Linked DNA regions of Homo sapiens: region 1 is linked to region 2. The links come from fine-mapping of genetic effects on plasma protein levels. A gene starts in region 2. The other region holds a variant in brackets. All regions are shown on one strand. Distances are between the middles of the regions.

Region 1 (5,363 bases), 13 kb before region 2:
CCCCCAGCCCAACAACCTAATATGTCCATATGGCCCAGAGGTGAGAGAACACAGCTGGCTTTGAGAGGGGAGCTAAGCCCACACAAGGGCACAGGCATGGCATTGCACAGACCCTTAACCTCTCTTTTGACCTGTTTCCTCACCTGTAAAATGAGGCTGAATCTAACAGCAGGTGCCCATCTCAGAGCTAGTGAAGGAATTAGGTAATGCAATCAAAGCAGGCAGTGCAACTTTCGGCTGACAGAGCACGCACTGGCAAACGCTGGCTGTTACTATTGTGAATGGTGTTAATAACTACTGTCTGCTGCCCTGTACAGTTTATAAAGCACATCTGCATCCAGGATCTTCCATGGCTGTTGAGAGGCCTGAGTAAGTGGATGGTGGGAACCCCATGGTGAGCCTGCTGCGGTGGCCAGGGTGTTGCTATGGTCACTGCACACTGTGAACGCCTCCAGGGAGCTGGTGGGGGCAGGGGGCAGTGAATTAACCGTGAACATGTAAGAGAAAGGCCTTTGGAAGAAACTCTTTCTAAAGGCAAGGAGCTCTGCCGTGTTTTTATCTGCTGACTCCTGAGCAAGACTGGCAAAGTGGCCTGGGTGGCCTCCTGCAGCAGCTGACCTGACACCTGCAGAAGGGTTCATCATTGGGTGCCAGGACCACTGCCATCTGCCCCCAGTCTGCCTGGGGGCCCTGACAGAATCCAGCACACACAGGATGCCAATACCCCTCCAGGAAGGGACTGAGTTTCCATATCAGGTTCTGCTGAAGGGTGACACTGAGCCTAGCCCACATTCAGGACTCATGCAGGCTGGATGAATGCAGGATGAACTTTTATTACTACTGGGGTTTTTCTTTTTGTTTTTGAAACAGGGTCTTGCTCTTTAGCCCAGGATGGAGTGCAGTGGTGCGATCATGGCTCACTATAAACTCAACCTCCTGGGCTCAAGCAATCCTCCCCTCTCAGCCTCTAGAGTAGCTGAGACTACAGGGGTACATCATCACACCCAGCTAATTTTTCATTTTTGTAGAGATGGGGTCCCACTATGCTGCCCAGGCTGGTCTCAAACTCCTGGACTCAAGCAATCCTTCTACCTTGACCTCCCAAAGTGCTGGGATTATAGACATGAGCCACTGTACCCAGCCAATTACTGGGCTCTTTAAGCTGAGCTGCTGTCATCTTCCCAGCTCACCCATGTACCTGCTTAGCTCCCTTCTCAAACACAGCTGTGTTCTCTCACCTCTGAGCCACGTCCTCTTCCTTGCCCACCAAGGCCTACTCTGTACCTCAAGTCTCAGCTTAGAAGCTAGTTCCTCTAGGAGCCTCTGCTACCTAATTTCAGAAATCAGGCTGCCAGAGGGCCCCTGGAGGCAGGCTGAGGGCAGGGCTTCCTGGAGAGGGGCTGGGCATAGCCCCAGTGCCCCTGGCCACACCATACTGCTGGTGCTGGACTGTGCTTCATGCCTCCTTACCCTTGCCGGGGAGATCCTGGTGGGCCCACCTCTTAGACGGCTCCCTGACCTGCATGCCAAAGGCTCGGTCTGGGTGCCACAGCGGCTCCAGGACCCCTCAGTTCGGCAGAGGGGACTGTGGGGATGAAAGGGCCTGGTACTGCCCAACTAATTTTACAGAGGAGGAAACAGGCTCTGAGATGGTGTGACTTGTCCAAGGCCACACAGCAAATTGATGATGGGGCATGCAGGAGAGGCCTGGCTCCTGACTCCCCACCTGGTGCTCCCCGCCAGGCCCGTGGGAAGCCCCCTCAGCCCCGGACGCCCAGGGCACATACACACTCACCAGAACTCACCGTCGTCCTGCACGGTCACACCCATCTTCTCCCGCTCACTCTTGCTCACTTTCTGCCACTCCTCCGAGCTGGGGTGTCAGGGCCGGGGAGGAGAAAGGGAGCTGTCTAAGAGGCAG[C/G]CCCACCAGAATCTGTCTGGCAAAGGCGAGGAGGCACGAGGGGCAGTCTTGCACCAGGCCTCCAGCGGCACGGTGTGGCCAGGGGCACTGAGGCCATGCCCAGCCCCTCTCCAGGAAGCCCTGCCTGTCTCCTCCCACAAGGGACCGTGAGCTGCCACCATGACAGGGGCTGGGAGGTCTGAAAGTAAAGCTGCAGACTGGGGGGAAGGGGGGTGCGACCCCCAGTGAAGAGGGCTCCTTCACTTAGCACCTGGGCTCCACTCCCATCTTGGCCTTACCAGGGCCATAAGCCAAGCACAGAGGAGTCCCCCATTTGCTCAGGGCTGTGGCCTCCCTCCCTGCTCCCCTCCCGCACCCACTCACCAAGCTGGTCTCTACACCCCTGATGGCCTCCAGCCCCAGGCCTTTCTTGTGCTCAATCCATCACCCCATACAACCACTGCAAAGTAATTCTCCCTTCTTCGTTCCTAGTGTCATCCTCCCCCAGATCCTTCAAGGCCCAGCCCCAGTGCCAACTCCTCCAAGAAGCCCACCCGTCCTTGTCCAAGCCCTCATGCCCTGTGCCTGCACCCCCATCCCCAGGCCTCACGTGTCACTCCAGGGCCCGTTCCACTCCCGCTCGCCCCAGGGGTTGCGCAGGCGGATCATGTCCAACTTCTCTGACTTGAAGAAGGCCAGTAGGCCGTGGCCCAGGCGCACCTTGCGCACATCAGTGACGGCGTATGCGTGGCCCTTTACCAGGCCGCACGCCAGGCGGGCCTCCATGTCAGCTGCTGTCACTGCCTGTGGAGGGACACAGTTGCTCAGAGAGGCAGGGCCACACTGGAACCCAGACCAGGGACTCAGGTGCTGGAGGGCTAGGAGGCTGCACGGGACCTACAGGATGGGATGGGAATTGCAGTCATGGGGCAGTGCTGTGTTCACAGAGCTTTAAAACCCCCATGGGCAGCAGTCTCAGTAAAGGAAGGTGCCCATAGTGGGTCAGCCCAGGGGAATGCTGGGGCCCACGTGCACTGGCTCAGCTGTTGTTAAATATTCGGGAATATTTAAATTGTTAAATATTCCAGGAATTGTTAAATATTCAGGAACATTGTTTTGTTTTTTGTTTTTTTTTTGGATGGAGTTTTGCTCTTGTTGCCCAGGCTGGAGTGCAATGGCGCGATCTTGGCTCACCACAATTTCTGCCTCCCGGGTTCAAGCAATTCTCCTGCCTCAGCCTCCCGAGTAGCTGGGATTACAGGCATGTGCCACCATGCCCGGCCAGGAATATTGTTAATAGCTGGTTGTTAAATGTGGGTAGTTGGAAATCAGCCATGGTGGGAGTATTTACACCACAGTAATTAGCAAATGCTACAAACCGGGGCTTTTTACTTTGCTGGAGGCAGTTTACCAGCACAGCACAGGGTCTGCTAAAGTTGGGTTTGAACTTGGCTTTCACTGGGCCTCAGCTTTCTCATCCAAAACACGAGCAAGTAATGAAATCAGGACCACCCTCAGATGCACAGACGTTCATAACCCAAGAGGATCAGAAAAGAAGTTTTGGTTGAACAGTGCGGGAAAGGCTTTTCACAGCCTAGAGGGTCTGGGCAGGGGGTTGCACCTTCCAACTTCTCCCCTCCCCCACGAGGCTGAGGGTCTGAATACGTAGGAGCTGACCTGAGCGTGGGATGTCACAGTTGTCTCCCATCTCAGTCAGCGAGGGTGAAGGGGAGGGGTCGCCTCTGGGGACTGCCGTGTTCTCACCTTGATGGAGGCACTGATGAGGCCGCCCCGGCTGTGCACCTTTAACATGCGCTCAAAGAGCTGGTTCCTCTTAGTCTCATCGTTGGCAAAGTCACCCTCGGTCAGGTCGATGGGCTCAGAAACACCACCCGTGAAGTCCACCAGTGCGTCTGCTGTGTTGCCTCCATCCAGGGCCTGGTAACAGCCTGCCAGTCTGGGAAGCAATGTGGAAAGACTTCCCAGCTCATGCTCCCCAGCCAGGCTGCATCCTTTACCTCATAGGGGAGGTTTTTGAAACTCAGAGGGGTCAAACAACCTGTTACAGTCACGCAGCAGGCCACGGCGGAGCCAACACTGGAACCCAGTTCTTAACACTCGGGCCAACATATAAGGCTTAAATTCCCCTAAGCCTTAGTGGCTCAATCTTAAAAAATCAGCTGTCCAAAAAAAAAAAAGCAACTCTTTTCCAAAGTGCCAACAATGGTCAGGGGGAGGGGAAGGAGTTACTGTCGGATGGGTATAGACCTCCTGCTGGGAATGATGAGAAGGTTCTGGGGATAGATAGTGGTGATGGCCCATAGCACTGTGATCATAATGAATGCCACTGAATTGTATGTTTCCATATGGTTAAAATGAGAAGCATTATGTTTTGTCTATTTTACCACAATGAAACTGTGTTTTTTCAAAAAACAAAAAACAACCAAGGCCACTGGGTCGACCTGCATCCAGGTGGTGGAGACTCAGTGGCCACCAGGGGGCTGGCTTTCCTTTCTTAGGATTGAAAGTGGAACCTGCCAATGTGTTTTCTTGGGTTTTTGATGTTGGGAGTTTTTGTCTTTCCTTTTCCTCTCTCCCCCTTTCTCTTGTTTTCTATCTCTCTCTCTCCTTGCTCCTGCCCCTACACACACATTTTTTCAGCAAGATTGACAAATGGGCCTAGCAGGAGGAACCAGAGAGTGGCTCACCTAGAGCTGGCGAGGCTGGCCTCTGACCCCACTGCCCCTCCTCCCTCCTCCCTCCTGGCCTAGGCGTATCCCTGCCCTGCAACGGCCTGCGCGAGTCACTCTTCCCCAGGGTTCCCCACAGCTCAGCAAAACTTTGCTTGTGCCCATTCTATGCTGGGCTCTGTGTTGGGCACTGGGGACACAGAAGCAGAAGGCACGGAGCAGAAGGAGGGGTCAGCAAAGACAGAATGGACAGTCAGCCAGGCAGAGGCGGATGGTGGACAAGAGGGAGGCCCAGCAGGCGGGGAAGGCAGGCACGTGGCCCACCCTGCACAACCAGGCCCCAGCTCAGTTACCACTTCCCCAACCAAGGCCCCAGGCAGGGCATGGCAGCATGAACCTTCGAGAATGGTCCTAAATGTGAGTGCTGCCTCTGCCCCCAGCTACCTACAGGATGTTGCCTGGGCCTCAGTCTTCTCCCCCTAAAATGGGAGTAACCAACATTCCTCTCCTTACAGGGCCCAGGCCTCCACCCCACCCAGCACAGGCTCAGCTGACTATGCCCTCAGGCCTGGCGGTTGAGCCTGCTGCGTGCCTGCACCAGCCCCTCACTTCTCTGTGCCTAAAGCCCTGGCTAACGGAATACCACGAGGAGCCCATCCGGTGCCACCCCCGTCTGGGCCTCCCACCCACCTGCCTGCTGCTGGCACCTACTTGGCATAGGCCTTCTCCACTAGGGCGCACCAAAACTCATTGCGGGAGTTGGAGTGGCAGTA
Region 2 (5,363 bases):
CAGAAGGGCAGGGCCACTGCACACGGTTCTGGCCTCCCCTCGTGCTCAGCAGGGCAGGCAATGGCCGAGACTTCTTCAAGCCTGTCCCGGAATGGGCCCCAGAGCTGTGAGTCAGAAAGGACCAGTGCTCAGCCCACAGACACTCTCCCACTCTCTCACCCACAGAATCTCAGCTCCAGCATGCTGCTCCAGCCTGCACACCTCCGAGGTGGGGCTCACCCTCCCGGCAGCCCCAGCCACAGGGGATGGCCCTGACCCTCTGGCCCTCAGTGCATCTGTTCCAGAGCCGCAAGTTCCTTGACAGCTTTGCTTCATGAGGGGAAATGTCTTGGACACATCCCTGACTGGCTGAGGACAAAACACAGGGCTGGCCTTAAGTCAGGGTGCTGGGGACAGTGGCTTAGCTGTACTTGGCTGATGTTAGGTGCAGGTCAGGCACTCCCCCAAAAGGGGGGGCTCTCTGGGACTGCGCAATGCGAAGGGGAATGAGGCTAAGAGTCAGAACTGAATCTGATGAAAATTGTGCCTCAGTTTCCCCATCTGTTTGGTGAGTGAGTTGCATCCAATGACCCCAGAGGTTACCATTCTGCCGTCACACCACTGCCGCCTGCAGCCCACTTGGGACTATCAGCCGTCGTAACTGCCCACCACGCCTTCGCCCTGCCCCCCTCAGCTGCATTGAAGAAGCCCAAGAAATGCCAACAGATGCTATGTCAGGACGAAGCACTTGCCTTCCCTGACCTGCAAGCTCTAAAGAGCCTGACTCCCCAGCAGGGGATACCTGAGGCCCTGGAGAATCCACTCTCTCCAGCTCCAACTTCCCTCAAGGCAAAGGGAACCCCCTTTACTAATCCACTCCCTGTTTCACTATCTGAACTGCAGTCTCCTAGCTCAGCAAGCCCCCAGGCCAAGGTCATCCGGACCAGGCCCCTGTTAAGAGCCATCCTTGAACCAGCAGCAATGATGAACAGATAATCTAAAACTGCACTTGTTCCTAGGGTAGGAATAGACCTCTAGAATACATCCATATGAATACAGCACACTCTGTCTCATGGATATGTGTGCGTAGAGACAGATCTCTGTGTAACCTCCCCCTTCACTTCTCCACCCTGAAGTCAGGCCCAGAAGAGCCACAGCTGGGCCTACACAGCCTCCAGGGTGCCAGCCACTCTCCACTGCCCAAATCCACCCCTGCAGCAACCCTGCCCCATATCCTGAGGGTTGTCGACGTGTTATGGGACCAGCAGCCCAGACACAGGCTCCGGCAAAGGGCACCAAGGCCAGGGAGCAGTGAATGCCGGCTTGCTGGACTCCCCGTGGAGACGCCCCATCATCTCTGTCTCCCTGACTCTGGAGGAAGTGGATGCTGGGTTTTTCAATCTCTGTCTCTGTGTCTCTCTTGGTCTTTCTCAGTCTCTCTCTCCCACAATGAAGCAGAGAGAAGGCAGATGGCCCTGGCCTCACTGTCCATGCACACTGGCCCCTAGTAGGCCTCTATCGTCTATAGCAATGCAGCAGCCAGTCCAGCTTCTAGGCTATGGAGCCTCAGAATCTTCTTCCTGTGAGCTGGAGTGCTGGCCCCAGGGAGAAGCAGAGGAGGAAAGGTGTGGGACTCAGGGGGCCTCTGGGCAAGCAGAGGACAGGCTGAGCAGCGAGAATAATGGCCCCAAAAATACAGGGGGGAAAGTGGCAGGGGCAGGGGAGAGCACAGGTGGGCTAGAGGAGAGCAGCAGCTGGCAGCTGCTGTCAGAGCTGGTTAAAAACCACGGAGGCCTTGAGGTTGGCGGGCTCCACACCCTCGCCAAAGGTGACGAGGAAGTACATGACCTTGCGGATCTTGGCCAGGTCCGACAGGCGCTCCCCAAACTCCAGGGCGTCGGCCTCATTCCAATCTATGGCATCCGAGTCCTCCTTGCGCCAGAAGATGGCAGTGGGGTCCAGCAGCTGGCGTGTCATGAGGTTGGTGAGGTCAGGCGTCCAGTTCTGCGAGGTGCCTGTGATGGTGACCTTGCCCGGCTTGTCCAGCACGACATTCCAGCGCTCGAACTGTAGCCGCTGCTGCTGGGTGAAGTTGAGGCGGTACACAGACTCCGCTGGCTGCAGCAGCTTCTCCCCATCCTGGCGCTTCTCCCCGCGCTGCTTCAGGCTCTCCACGCGTAGCCGCATCTGCCTGGTCAGGCCCTGGTCCAGGACCAGCGGCATGTCCAGCTGCGGCTGCTGCGGCCTGTCCTCCGCCATGGCCCAAGTGCTGCTGCCACCAACGCCAAGGACCCAAGTGGGCTGGAGCCTGGGGCCGTGGAGAGAAGAGGCCACCAAAGGGGGGCCCCACCTACTTTCTGCCCTTCCCTCTTCCCCTCCCTTTGCCACTGGCTCTTCCCAGCCCCACTCAGTTCTCAAAATGGGGTGTGTGTCAGGGGTGGGAGTCCCCATCTGCCTCCACTCCAGTCCCCGCAGAAGCGATAATGCAGGCCCTGCAGGCAGGCGGAAGGTGGCAGGTTCCTTGGGGACCAGGTCGCTGATGTCAATTGCTGTGGCAACCGCCCTGACTACCAGGGCTGGGCTGGGTGCTGGCTTGTTTGTGAAGATGAGAGCACTTCGTAAGTGCACTGATGGGGAGGGTGGTGGGGACCACTCCTCACTGGAGGTACACAGGAGAAGATGCAAGACCCGCAGGAGCAGGTGGAGAAGGCAGGACCAGAGAGGGCTTGGTGATTGGAGATCTGAAGTCACCTAAGTTAAACCTTGGAGCTACCCCTGACGCCCGCCTCCCTCTCACTCCTCCACACCCAATCACCAAAGCCTGTCGATTCTGCTTCCCAAACACCCCGGGACCCTTCCCCTCCAGTCCCATTGACAGGATCTCAGCCCAGCTACCGTATCTCTCACCCAGACCCGTGGTTCTCAAGACTTGAGTGAGCATCAGACTCACTCTCAGGACTTAACACACAGATTGCTGGACCCCCTCCCAGAACTCCTGGTTTATCAGGGCTCTGTGGGCCTGAGAATCTGCATTCCTAACCACCTCCCAGGTGACATGCTGCTGGGCCAGGGACTGTGCCTTGAGCATTACTGACCCGGATGACACTGATGGCTGGCTGTGCCGCAGCCCTGCACCATGGCCACAACAGGACAAGGCTTCACTTCTACCCAAATCCCACCACTTACTCCACCTGAATTAATCCTCAGTTTCCCCCAGGGGCCGAGGAAGAATCTGGCAAATGTTTATATCCCCAGGGCCCGGGGCGGAACCAGAAGCTCAGCCTTTATACTGGGGAAATGAAAGAACTGGAGTGTGAGTGGAGCCGGAGTTGGGGAGAGAGTGGGGATGGGAGTTGGGGAGCGGCCGTCGCCACAACACGCCACACACAGAAAAGAGGACAGAGTCAAGGCCAAGGTATCACAACGGAAAACAATCTGAAGGGTCTAGTGGACCACAAGCACGGTCAATTGTGAGATGGTGGCTAATCAATCAGTGGGATCCTGGGCTACCTGAACAGCAGAGGGGCACCAAGGGAGACAGAATACCCGGTCCTGTTAAAACCACACTGCAAGCCCTGGGGTCAGTTCTGGGGGTCATTGGCAGAAATTCCCCCAAGGGTATTTGAGAGAACCATACAGCTAGATGTCAAACTGCCTGATCCTCACAGAACCTTTTGCTTTGTAGCTGGAGGGGCAGGGGAGAGGGGAACAACTTGGCTAAGGAACTACCATGGGAGGCTTCCCTTTCCTCCACATGGGGGAGCTGTTTCTAACCTTCCCAGCACCACATTCTGCTTTTTATTTGTTGAGTTGCTCAGTTTTTGCCTGTGACACACAGTCCTGAGAGGGTAGGAAGTGTGTCTTGTCATTACTCTAGGCCAGCAACCAGAACGGGGCCTGCCACACAGAGGCCTCAGAAATGCTTGTTGAATGAATGAACGAATGATCGAATGAATGAATGAATGAACGGATGAATGAGTGAATGACACTGACAAGGGACAGGTGATGTGATGGACCACGGGACACAAGCCCAAGGCCAAGAGGAAGGTGGGCAGGTGGGGAGACAGTACACAGGTACTGGCCAGGGCCAAAATGAAGTGAGCAAGATGGCTGGAAGGTGAGGTCAGAGAGACTGGGCCTTTGGCTGAAGACCTCCAGGGAGAGCAGTTCCGGGCCCGGGCTGTGGCATGGCAGCAGGTGACTGAGGCGGCTGAAGGTGAAGGCTGATAGAAAGGAGATGGAGAACTAAGACAAGGGTAAAAGGGCAAAGCGAGAGGGCAGGACGTTAGCCACATGGACACAGTAAAGCCTGGGACACAGCAGTTCTTGGGGTAGAATGGGCTGGAAAATGGCAGGAACCAAGCCCTTTGTGCCCAGGTGACTGGCCAGGGCAGCTGGCTGGTGGAGACAGCAACACAGTGGGCTGAGGGTGGGAGTCCAGTGAAGGAGCCAAGTGCTTGTATGGGGACGCTGTGGTCCGGGCAGCACTGGGAAGGAGGATCCCCTATTTCTGGATCCTGAGGGATGGGATGAGGTGGGTGTGATCAACTTCTACTGATGAGGATTTAGGGGCACAAGACCCCTGGGGAGGGTCTGAGCAGAGGGGCACCGACCTTCTGGAGGCCGAAGGTGGGGGGCAGTTGTGACGGGAGCTTGAGTCTCACAGACTGGGCGGGAGGGACGAGCGGTGGGAGCCAAGGGAAGGCCTGGGGGGAAAAGGAATGGAAGAGGGAGGGGAGGAGGCAGAGGGGGTGGACTGAGGCTTGTGGGCAAGGGAGCAGGCAGGATGCAGGAGGCTGCAGCTGGGGACAGGGCCCACTGATGTCCACAGACCTCTGCTCAGCCATCGGACACCTTGGGAGGACCCACCCAAGGCTGGATGTAGCAATGAATACAGAGGAGAAAAGCAAGCTCTAAACTTGCAGATGTAATTGCAAAAATGCATATAAAAAAACAAAACAAGGCTGGGCACAGTGGCTCACGCCTGTAATCCCAGCACCTTGGGAGGCCGAGGCGGGTGGATCACCTGAGGTCAAGAGTTTGAGACCAGCCTGGCCAACGTGGTGAAACCCCATCTCTACTAAAAATACAAAAATTAGCCGGGTATGGTGGCAGGCGCCTGTAATCCCAGCTACTCAGGAGGCTGAGGCAGGAAAATCACTTGAACCCGGGAGGTGGAGGTTACGGTGAGCCGTGATCGCACCATTGCACTCTAGCCTGGGTGACAAGAGCGAAACTCCAACTCAAAAAAAAACCAAAACAAGCAAAATCCTCTTTAACACCAAGTGGAAAAAAAACTAGAAGGAACTCCCTCTCCCTCTCCCTCTCCCTCTCCGTCTCCCTCTCCGTCTCCCTCTCCCTCTCCCTCTCCGTCTCCCTCTCCC

Which allele goes with the higher level. Alleles are on the strand shown, and positions count from the first base shown. The strength of an association depends on the size of the effect and on how common the allele is.
In carriers of allele G in region 1, the plasma level of the protein whose gene starts at base 2,238 in region 2 tends to be higher than with C alone (weak association).

Evidence for each region. PIP is the posterior inclusion probability: the model's chance that the variant is causal. Protein levels are from antibody-based Olink assays in UK Biobank. Linkage for the fine-mapping came from a reference panel and not from the study's own genotypes, which makes the PIPs less certain.
Region 1: its variant is fine-mapped to the plasma level of the OMP protein (UK Biobank, PIP 0.96).

Annotation. Positions count from the first base shown.
Region 1 is chr11:77,112,736-77,118,098 of GRCh38, reverse strand. CAPN5 (calpain 5) reads right to left here. Exons shown (of 13, transcript NM_004055.5): 4 at 5,302-5,363; 5 at 3,665-3,857; 6 at 2,511-2,704; 7 at 1,796-1,873. Among named protein-coding and RNA genes, the nearest start is that of OMP, 13 kb to the right of the region's middle. RefSeq lists enhancers at 3,191-3,784, 3,785-4,380, 4,381-4,975. The variant C/G (reference allele first, on the strand shown) is at 1,922.
Region 2 is chr11:77,099,715-77,105,077 of GRCh38, reverse strand. It overlaps OMP (olfactory marker protein), which reads right to left and starts at 2,238. Exons shown (of 1, transcript NM_006189.1): 1 at 1,747-2,238. The coding sequence starts at 2,238. The coding sequence ends at 1,747. The region is part of intron 3 of CAPN5 (calpain 5); the gene reads right to left.